Homo sapiens: one gene and its partner. The protein of the gene in region 2 purifies or fractionates together with the protein of the main gene of each other region. This does not show direct contact. Each region holds a gene or a part of one and is shown on either strand. Other genes may lie near its edges.

Region 1 (5,239 bases), on a different chromosome or scaffold from region 2:
CTCAGCCTCCTGAGTAGCTGGGATTACAGGCACACACCACCATGCCTGGCTAATTTTTGTATTTTTTGGTGGGGATGGGGTTTCATCATGTTGGCCAGGCTGGTCTCAAATTCCTGACCTCATGTGATCCAGTCGCCTCGGCCTCCCAGAGTGTTGGGATTACAGGCGTGAGCCATCGCATCTGGCTGCTCATCTGCATTTTAGATGTATTTTCAGAACAACCATTGCCAGCAGATTTATGTAATATTTAAATTCACATACTATACATTTATTTATTTAAATTCCAGAAGACTGGGACATGTTGGATGTTGATGAAGATGAAAAGCTAACTGGTGAAGAAGAATTTGAATTACTTGCTGGACCGCTTGGTTTAAATGACCGGCGCATTGTACCAGAACCAGTTCAGTTCCCTGACAGCGATCCACTGGGAGCATCAGTAGCAATGGTCACAGCCACCAACAGTATGGAAGAGACTCTGATGCAAATAGGTAAACTGAAATCCTGATTTGCATTGATTTTATAGCATCTACTATAATTTGTTTCTTAGATAGGTAAATAATAATAATAAAGTAAAAGTAAATAAGACTAATGGTTCAACATTATCTCACCCCAACAAGTCTCTTTAGCCAGTTGTTTTAACATTTTGAAGGTATAATGTGGTATTAAGTTTTGGCTGGGCTTGGTGGCTTATGCTCGTAATCCCAGCACTTTGGAAGGCTGAAGAAAGAAGGTCGCTTGAGGCCAGCAGTTCAAGACCAGGCTGGGCAACATGGTGAGACCCATTTCTATTAAAAAAATGAAGAAAAGTAGCTGGGTGGGTGGTGTGCACCTTTAGTCCCAGCTACTCAGGAGGCTGAGGCAGAAAAATTGTTTAATCCCAGGAGTTTGAGGTTATGGTGAGTGATGATTGAGCCACTGCACTCCAGCCTGGGTGACAGAACCAGACCCTGTCTCAAGAGGAAAAAATAAATGTTTTGATTTTTTTTTGTCTTTCATGATACCGAAGCAATAAAAAGATTTATAGAACTTGTTATTTAAAAAAAAACTTGGTGTTAAGAGAATCCTGTAACCAACTTAAAATTATTGTGCAGTCTTCTTTTTATTTGGGTGAGAGGGTGTGGTAAATTTTTGGTATAGGGAATACAAAATAAAGAATTGGGCAGTATTGGTAATTCAGTCCTTTATAAATTCTCAAAGCACTTATAATCAGTAGATGTGATACATGGGCAAAATGAACAAAACAGAAAATACTTACTGGTAAATTAAGTATAAATACTCCTATGGTAAATACATTGTTAACATAGAAATATCTAAGTTAGAAATATCCAAGTTCAAACTTAGAAATATGTGAGTTTCTCCTAAGAAATTTTCTGTATAACCAAGTTCCAGATGAGCAAAAGACATTGGTTTGTTATGGAACCTCTGTAGAATAGGAAATGTTTTTAGTAGTTCAGATGTATTTTTTTCTTACCTTGTTGAGAACAAAACAGAATTATGTTTTTCAGGTTGCCATGGCTCCGTAGAAAAGAGCTCCTCTGGGAGAATAACGTTAGGAGAGCAGGCAGCTGCCCTAGCAAACCCTCATGACCGTGTGGTGGCTTTAAGGAGAGTGACTGCTGCTGCTCAGGTTCTTCTGGCCAGAACCATGGTCATGAGAGCGCTGTCTCTTCTCTCAGTCAGGTAAGTGTTATTTTATGTCACATGATGCTAAGTTAACTTCTAGTGTACATTAGCTGGAAGTCTGGTGGTGTTTGGGAGGGTGAGATAGAATTTTAGAAGCTTGAATATGTACTGTTGAATGAAAGATGTTAGACGTAGTCATTGTTATTCACTCAATCGGTCATTCAGTTAATACTTGGCTCTTTTTAGGTAGAAAATAATGCCATTATCACAACTGAGTAAACTGCATACATTTTATTTTGTTGCTTGAAATGGGAAACTAAGGCTGTTGATCCCAATGGTGCTGGATCAAAAACTAAAGGTCAAAATGTATTGACCGTCTGTGTAGCTAAGTCAGCCTGCAGATGCCATCATGGGGATCCTTGCCGTGTTGATACTGTGGAGTGTAATGTAAAAAGGGGATGAGAACCAGAAATACCTAAAAGACAGCTGTTTAAGAAGTGATTAAGCAGGAGTATTTAATGGCAAATCAGTGAAGGCAGAAAGATCCTGAAAGAAAAACAAAATTTCCATAAGACTGTGTGCTATTGGCTCAAGGATAGGCAAATAGGATAGTACAGAAGAGAGTTAAGAAACTGACCCATACATATAAATAAACACTTGATTTATGGTTTGATTTATGACAGTGGTTCACACTGTAGAGCAATAGAGAAAGGCTGTTTTTTTCAGTAACTGAAGCAGGGTCTGATGGTTTATCCACATAGAAAAAAAAAGCCTTGGTCCCAACCTCAAACTATATAAAGCAAATAGTTATAAAGTGGCTATTAGATCTAAATATAAAAGAAAAATAAATCAATAAAGTTTATTGAAGGTAACATAGAAGAATTGCTTCTTGGTCTTGGGACAAGCAAAAATTCCTCAAGCAAGTCACAAAAGGAATCTGCCATAAAAGATTGATAAATTGGAATACAATAAAATAGAAAACCTCTGTTTAGCAAAAGTGATTTGAAAAGTAAGAAAGTAAAAAAGCAAGCCATAGAATGGGAGAAGATATTAGTAATGCATCTAACCAACAGAATGTGTAAAGAATTCCTATAAATTAACAAGAAAAAGACAACCCAGAAGAAAGTGGACAAAACACATTAAGAAGTGTTTCACAAAAGAGGATCTCCAAATGGCCAATAAACATGAAAAGATGTTCAACCTCAGTGAGTCTTCAGAGAAATGAAAATTAAAATCCAGTGTGATTGGGAGGCCAAGACGGGAAGAACCCTTGAGCCAGGAGTTTGAGACCAGCCTGGGAAACATAGTGAGACCCTGTCTCAAAAAAAAAAAAAAAAAAACCTAAGACAAAAAACCCACCAATGAGATACCATTGCACACCCACAAGAATGGCAAACATTTAAAACACTAGAGAGAAAAAAGTGACTGAAACAGCTAAAACTCCCATACATTGTTAGTGAGAAAATGAATTGGTATAACCACTTTGGAAAACTGTTCGATAGTATCAACTAAAACTGAACAGGAACATACTCTGTGACCCAGAGATCCACTTCTGGGTATATATCCAACAGAAATACTTAAATATGTGCCCCCTAAAGACCAATCATTCATGGTAGTACTATTCATAATAGCCCCATGTTGGAAACCGCCTGATTGTCATCTGTAGGGATAAATGAACTGTGGCAGATTTCATGTATATGTCAATGAAAACGAACTGCTCAATGCTACAAGATTTGGATGAATCTTACAAACATAATATTGAAGAAGCCAGACACAAAAGAGTACATATATTAATTATTCAATTGATGTAAAGTTCAAAAACAGGCAAAACTAACTTGTAGCTTTAGAAGTCAGGATAGTGGTTACTTCTGAGAGCATCGTGACTGAGAAAAGCCCAAAGCAGGTTTCTGAGGTACTGGCAATGTTCTGTTTCTTGATCTGGAGGGCGGTGACATGGGTTTGTTCAGCTTATGAAAATTTATGCTTTGTGAACATTCCTGTTTTACTTTGTCAGTTCAATTGTACTTCAAGTATATGCCAATACTTATTAAAAGGAGAGAACGTTTAGATGCCAGTTTCCAGCTTGATACCTTTGGCAACTCTTAGGACATGTATGGCTAATGATAGTGCAGCTTACATTTTATTATGGTTGTTGATGCTGTGAATGTTATGTGGGACTGCAAATGGTCCCTTAAGAAATCCATTTTCTTTATCCATCTGAGATGTTTTTCTTTACTGGCAGTGGTTCCAGTTGTAGCCTGGCTGCTGGTCTTGAGTCTCTGGGGCTAACAGATATCCGAACGCTAGTTCGATTAATGTGCTTGGCAGCAGCAGGGAGAGCTGGCCTCTCCACCAGCCCTTCTGCCATGGCTAGCACCTCAGAACGATCACGAGGTGGGCATAGCAAGGCTAACAAGCCTATCTCTTGCCTGGCCTATTTGAGCACAGCAGTGGGATGTCTGGCATCAAATGCTCCTAGTGCTGCCAAACTGCTTGTACAGTTGTGTACACAGGTAAGCTACTTTCAGTACTTTTCCCCGTTACATTGATTATTTCTGACTGATTCTTGAGCCTTTTGAAATGAAATATTTTTGTTCCAAAATTACATGTAAAAATTAAGTCTGTTTTTCCAATTGCTTCTTCAGAACTTGATTTCTGCTGCAACAGGTGTAAATCTAACCACAGTTGATGACTCAATTCAGCGAAAGTTTCTACCCAGCTTTCTCCGAGGAATTGCTGAAGAGAACAAGCTTGTGACCTCCCCAAACTTTGTTGTAACACAGGCCCTTGTGGCATTGCTAGCAGACAAAGGGGCCAAACTAAGACCTAACTATGATAAGTCAGAAGTTGAAAAGAAAGGTAAGTTTCATACTACTGAAACATACAGTCTTCTAATCGACTTCTTATTTTTAAATAATGTTTTTACATTGTTAGTATATGATAAATTATATGACGTGAGTTTCTTAAGTTTAGAACATAAAAGAAGTGCATAGATACTTTTTCACTGTGTATGGAAACAAAGATTAGAAAATGTACCATATTAGTTTAGTTATAGATTATGATTTGAGTTAACCATAGATAATAATCCTGGTAGGTTTCTTTAATAAAATTTAGATGAAGGCAGTGTTATTTTTCTCTTTGTTTTAAGATTATAACACTTTGAAGGGACTACTTATCAGTACTGCCTTTCTCTTCATCAGGACCATTTAGCCAAGAGATAACTGGCTTTTGTTTTTTGTTTCTTTTTGAGACAGAGTCTCACTCTGTCACCCAAACTGGAGTGCAGTGGCACAATCTTGGCTCAGTACAACCTCCACCTCCTGGGCTCAAGTGATTCTCCTGCCTCAGCCTCCCAAGTAGCTGGGATTACAGGCACATGCCACCATGCCCGGCTAATTTTTCTATTTTTAGTAGAGATGGGGTTTCGCCATGTTGGCCAGGCTTGTCTTGAACTCCTGGCCTCGTGTGATCCTCCCACCTCGACCTCCCAAAGTCCTCAGATTACAGGCATGAGCCACCACACCCAGCCGATACTGGCTTTTGGATCTATCAGCCCAGTTCCTTGACTGGTTACAGTCACACCATCACTTTTGAGCAACAAAAGCCAAACTGTTTT
Region 2 (4,001 bases):
AAGTGACTTGCTCAAGATCCCACGGCTGGGAAGGGCAGAGTCTGCTTAGATGACCCAGGCTTTCCGTTCTGTGCATGTTCCTGAGGCCTGCCACCTCTGACCATCAGCTCAGTGGTGCAGCGCAGACGCTCTGCCAGCAGTGGCCCGCCAGGCCTGGAGCCTAAGGGTCCAGCTCTCAGCTGTGCTGGGGAGCCACACTTCTTATCTAACTACCAGCTTGGGATGTCAGAAGGGCACTGGGTGGGGCCTGGCAGAAGACCCACTGTGCCTCTGGTCCAGGTTCACCATGGGCTGGAAGCAGGGCCTCTGGTACAACCTACGCCTCTCTGGCTTCAATCCTGTCACCATGGAATGGGGTATGGATCTCTGCCCCACCTTTGCCTAAGATCCTTGGGAAGATCACAAGCCATCGTGAGAGAAATTAGACAATCTCAGAGCATGGCTGTGGAGCACTGGTTGGGGGGTAAAGAAGGAGGGAAGAGAGAGCTGACTATGCCCTGTGTGGGGTACATACCCTCAATTCCTTTCTTTACTTGGAAAGTCATCCATATGCTTCAATGTTGAGTTTGGAATTCTCCTCCAAGAAGTCTTCCCTGACCTACCTACCCACAGGCTGGGTCAGAGGCCTCCCTCTCTCATAGACCTGACCATAGTATGTGGTCATTGCTTCCCCCATTATTTTCAGGGCAGGGACCACATCTGGGTCCCAGTCATTCTGCACTGTGTCTGCCCAGAGTGGGTGCCAGGGACGTCTAGGGGCCGGTTGAGTCCTGACTACCCCTGCAGCTTTGCCCAGCCCTCCACCCTCTGGCTCTCCTTGCCCTTTCCCCCTTACTTCTGCTCCCCTGACTCCCAAAGTGGAGAAGGAGCTGGGATGTCATTTGCCCAAGGCGGCCCTCTCTGTGGGCCTCAGTTTCCCATCAGCACAAGGTGAACTTTAAAAGGTTCTTTCTGAGCCTAGGCAGGCTCCATGCAGGGCTCTGGGATAAAGCCAGAAATCAGAAACACTTCCTCAACAAATGACTGTAAGACCCCACCCAATGGCATCCATATTAAATACAAGAAGGGCCATTACATCTGCAGGGGCCAGGGAAGGACCCTGAAAATGTGCACGGACAAGTTAAAAATCAGCGGGCTACGTGCGCACGCCGGTGGGGGCGCCACGTGGGCGAGGGCGAGGCCCACAGCTCCGGGGCGCATCACAAGGCCCGGGTTGCCGTGGCAGCAGCGGAGGCGGGCAGCGCGCAGGCCTGCCATGAGGGAAAGCCAGGATGCCGCCGGAGCTCATGGCTGGAACCGCGTCGGCTCCACGGCCACCAAGTGGTTCACCGGGGCGCCCTTCGGGGTGCAGAGCCACAGGTGGGGCCCGTTTGCGTCCTGGGCTCACGCCCACGGTCCAAAGCAGCTGCTGCCCACCCCGAAGCCACGCTTGGCCTCGGGAGAGAGGGTGTCCACCTACACACAGGGCTGAGCCTGGCGGGGAGGGGAACCAGAGGAGTGGGGGCCGGCAGTGAGGAGGGGCTGGGCTTTCTCTCCCCCTCTTGCTTAGTGCTCTTCCCTGCCCAGGGTTCTTTTACCATCTAAGTGAGTTCTTTAAAACCATTTCAAGAGCACTTACTATGTGCCAGGTTTAGAGAGGTCACATGGCCTGGTCCATAGTAGGCCACTCAGCTCAAAAGTGGTGGGTGGGATTTCAGCCCAGGTGTCTGTCTTCCATTCACTCATATTCCACTCTGTCTCTTTCTCTCTCTCACCTACTGTGTTCCAGGCACAGTTCTAGGATCTGGGGCTACAGCAGTGAACACAACAGCAAACCCCTGTACTCATGGAGTTTGCTCTCTTCTGTGGGGGGTGGGGGTGGGTAATAAACAAAAGTATGTACATCTGTAAAACCTTGGGTATTGGTAAGGACTGTGGAGAAAAATGAAGCTGGGAGGAGGAGCTGGTGGGTGGGGTGGGGTGGGGTGGGAGCAGCCTGGAACATTCAAAGCCACTGCAACTCCACTACTTTTCTTTCATGAGCTTGCTCCAAAGTCACCTTCCCGGGCAGCCAACTCCCCCATGCTCCAGAACTGCCCACGCCAGGGCCAGGTGCCAGGCACAGGGCTCTCACTGGGCCACCGTCCCTCCCTAGGTTTGACATCTCTGCTGTTTATCCCAACTGGAAGAAGTTCAGCACCTTCACTGAGGCCCCATACTCCACGCGTTATTCTACCCAAGTGGTGAGTTTGCACAGCTTCCCTGACTCCTCCCACAGGGTCTGGCCACTGCCCCTTCGAGCTGCCTGCTGTGGTGGATGAGCTGAGCTGTAGAAGGGGCGTACTTTCTACCTTCTTCCAGCACAGAGCTGGACCCACAGTGGGGGCTTCCAGTGTGTTTGATAAACGAGGGACTGCAGCACTCCCAGCTTGTGCACTGACTACCTCTGGGCTCTTGAAGGAGTTGTTATACCTTCCTGCAGTGTGAGGGGGCAGTGATAGAGGATGTCACGATTGCACCTTGAGTGCCAAGCCTGTTGGTGCCAGCCTTAGTGCTGAGGGTGGGAGCCACAGGGGGATTGCCTACTCCCTTCCTCCGGGTCAGGGTGGTGGCTTGGTGAGGGCCTGCTCTGTGGGTAGACTGGGCGGGCGTGGCTGTCACAGCTCTGACCACACTCTGACTCAGTCCCACATAGGCCCTGGGACTTACAGCTCCAAAGAGACCTGCTTCAGCAAGAAGAAGCTGATGAAGGAGGTGGACACAGGCTGGGCCAAGGCCCAGGAAGCCACGCGGCTGACCCAGCTACCCCACTTCCAGTACCAGGCCATCATGAAAGAGAAGCGGCTGAAGGTGAGGCCTCTGGGGCCATGCCTCTCCCTCTCTGGTGCCAGGTCTTCCTGTCCATTGCAGCTGCTCTGTGTGGCCTTCAGTGTCCTCCCAAGGCCAGATGGAGATTATCCTTTAAGGAACACCATCGTGCCTTGGGCTTCTTCCTGCGTGGATTTTCCCAAGTTTAAGGCTTTCATTTTCTCTCTTCTCTTGGCACAGGAGCAAAAGCTGGGCCCCGGCTCCTACAACCTCAAAGACTTCTTAGAACAGCTGCGGGAGAAACCATGTAGCACCCGGGGGCTGCTCAGCTCTGGGGAGGTTCGCTTCCGAGGACTCACTGGGGTAGGTGTTCTCATGTCTGGAGTCCCAAGCAGAGAGCCTGGCATACACTGGGTGCCCAACAAATTCATTCACTTACATATCCATCCAGCCAGCCAGCCAGGAATAAGGATTAAGCACCTCCTAAGTGGCATACACTGTCCTAGACCTTGGGGATCTAGCAGTGACGAAGACAATGTCCCTGCTCTCATGAAGTAGATGTCCTAGTGGTAGAAATAGTAGTACAAAGAAGGAAATATAATACGTATATAAGCAGGGCTATGAACACAAATTAGACAGGCAAGGGACAGGCAGTGATGGTGGTGCAATTGATAGAGAGTAGTCAGGGCTCTGGGAGGAGGTGACATTTGAGGAAACCTACAGGTCGTGAGCAACGGAGACTTGCAATGTCTGGTACAGCATTCCAGGCATTGGAAGCAGCAGAGGCTAAGGCCTTGAGGTGGGAACATGCTTGTCAAATCAGACCGGCAGGCAGGAGGCCAGTGTGGCCAGAGGGCACTGGCCGAGGGTGAGAGGAGGCGAGCGAGAGGGCAGAGGGGTGAAGGGCTGGGTCATGAGGGCCCTGCAGCCAAGGTGGGGCCTTGGTGTTATTCCAGGTGCTGCCGGGGGAGGGCAGTGGAGGGCTTTGACAGGAAGAGGACCTAACTTACCTTTTTAGAGGAAGACCTTCGAGAGGGCCAGGGTTGGGAGGAGGCGATGGTGCTGAGAGGTGGGGGTGGCAGCGCCAGGGGATGATGATCTCATCAGGAGGACACTGAGTGAGGCTGACACTCAGTAAGGGCACGAGGGAGAAAGCAGGAGTCACCCCCTACCAAGGGAGCCAGCACAGCAGTTTGTTGGCCTGGACCTCTCTG

The links. The genes of interacting proteins can lie anywhere in the genome.
Region 1: the proteins of CIMAP2 (region 2) and HERC1 purify together in Homo sapiens (affinity purification with mass spectrometry; one large-scale study listed by BioGRID and IntAct). This does not show direct contact.

What each region holds. Positions count from the first base shown.
Region 1 is NC_000015.10:63,654,985-63,660,223, reverse strand, and holds part of HERC1 (probable E3 ubiquitin-protein ligase HERC1), read left to right. Parts: intron 1-287; coding exon 288-488; intron 489-1,490; coding exon of another isoform or gene 1,491-1,505; coding exon 1,506-1,680; intron 1,681-3,865; coding exon 3,866-4,136; intron 4,137-4,268; coding exon 4,269-4,482; intron 4,483-5,239. UniProt on the Homo sapiens protein: Involved in membrane trafficking via some guanine nucleotide exchange factor (GEF) activity and its ability to bind clathrin. Acts as a GEF for Arf and Rab, by exchanging bound GDP for free GTP.
Region 2 is NC_000001.11:54,804,862-54,808,862, forward strand, and holds the start of CIMAP2 (ciliary microtubule-associated protein 2), read left to right. Parts: upstream 1-1,201; 5' UTR 1,202-1,255; coding exon 1,256-1,359; intron 1,360-2,134; coding exon 2,135-2,222; intron 2,223-2,664; coding exon 2,665-2,829; intron 2,830-3,027; coding exon 3,028-3,150; intron 3,151-4,001.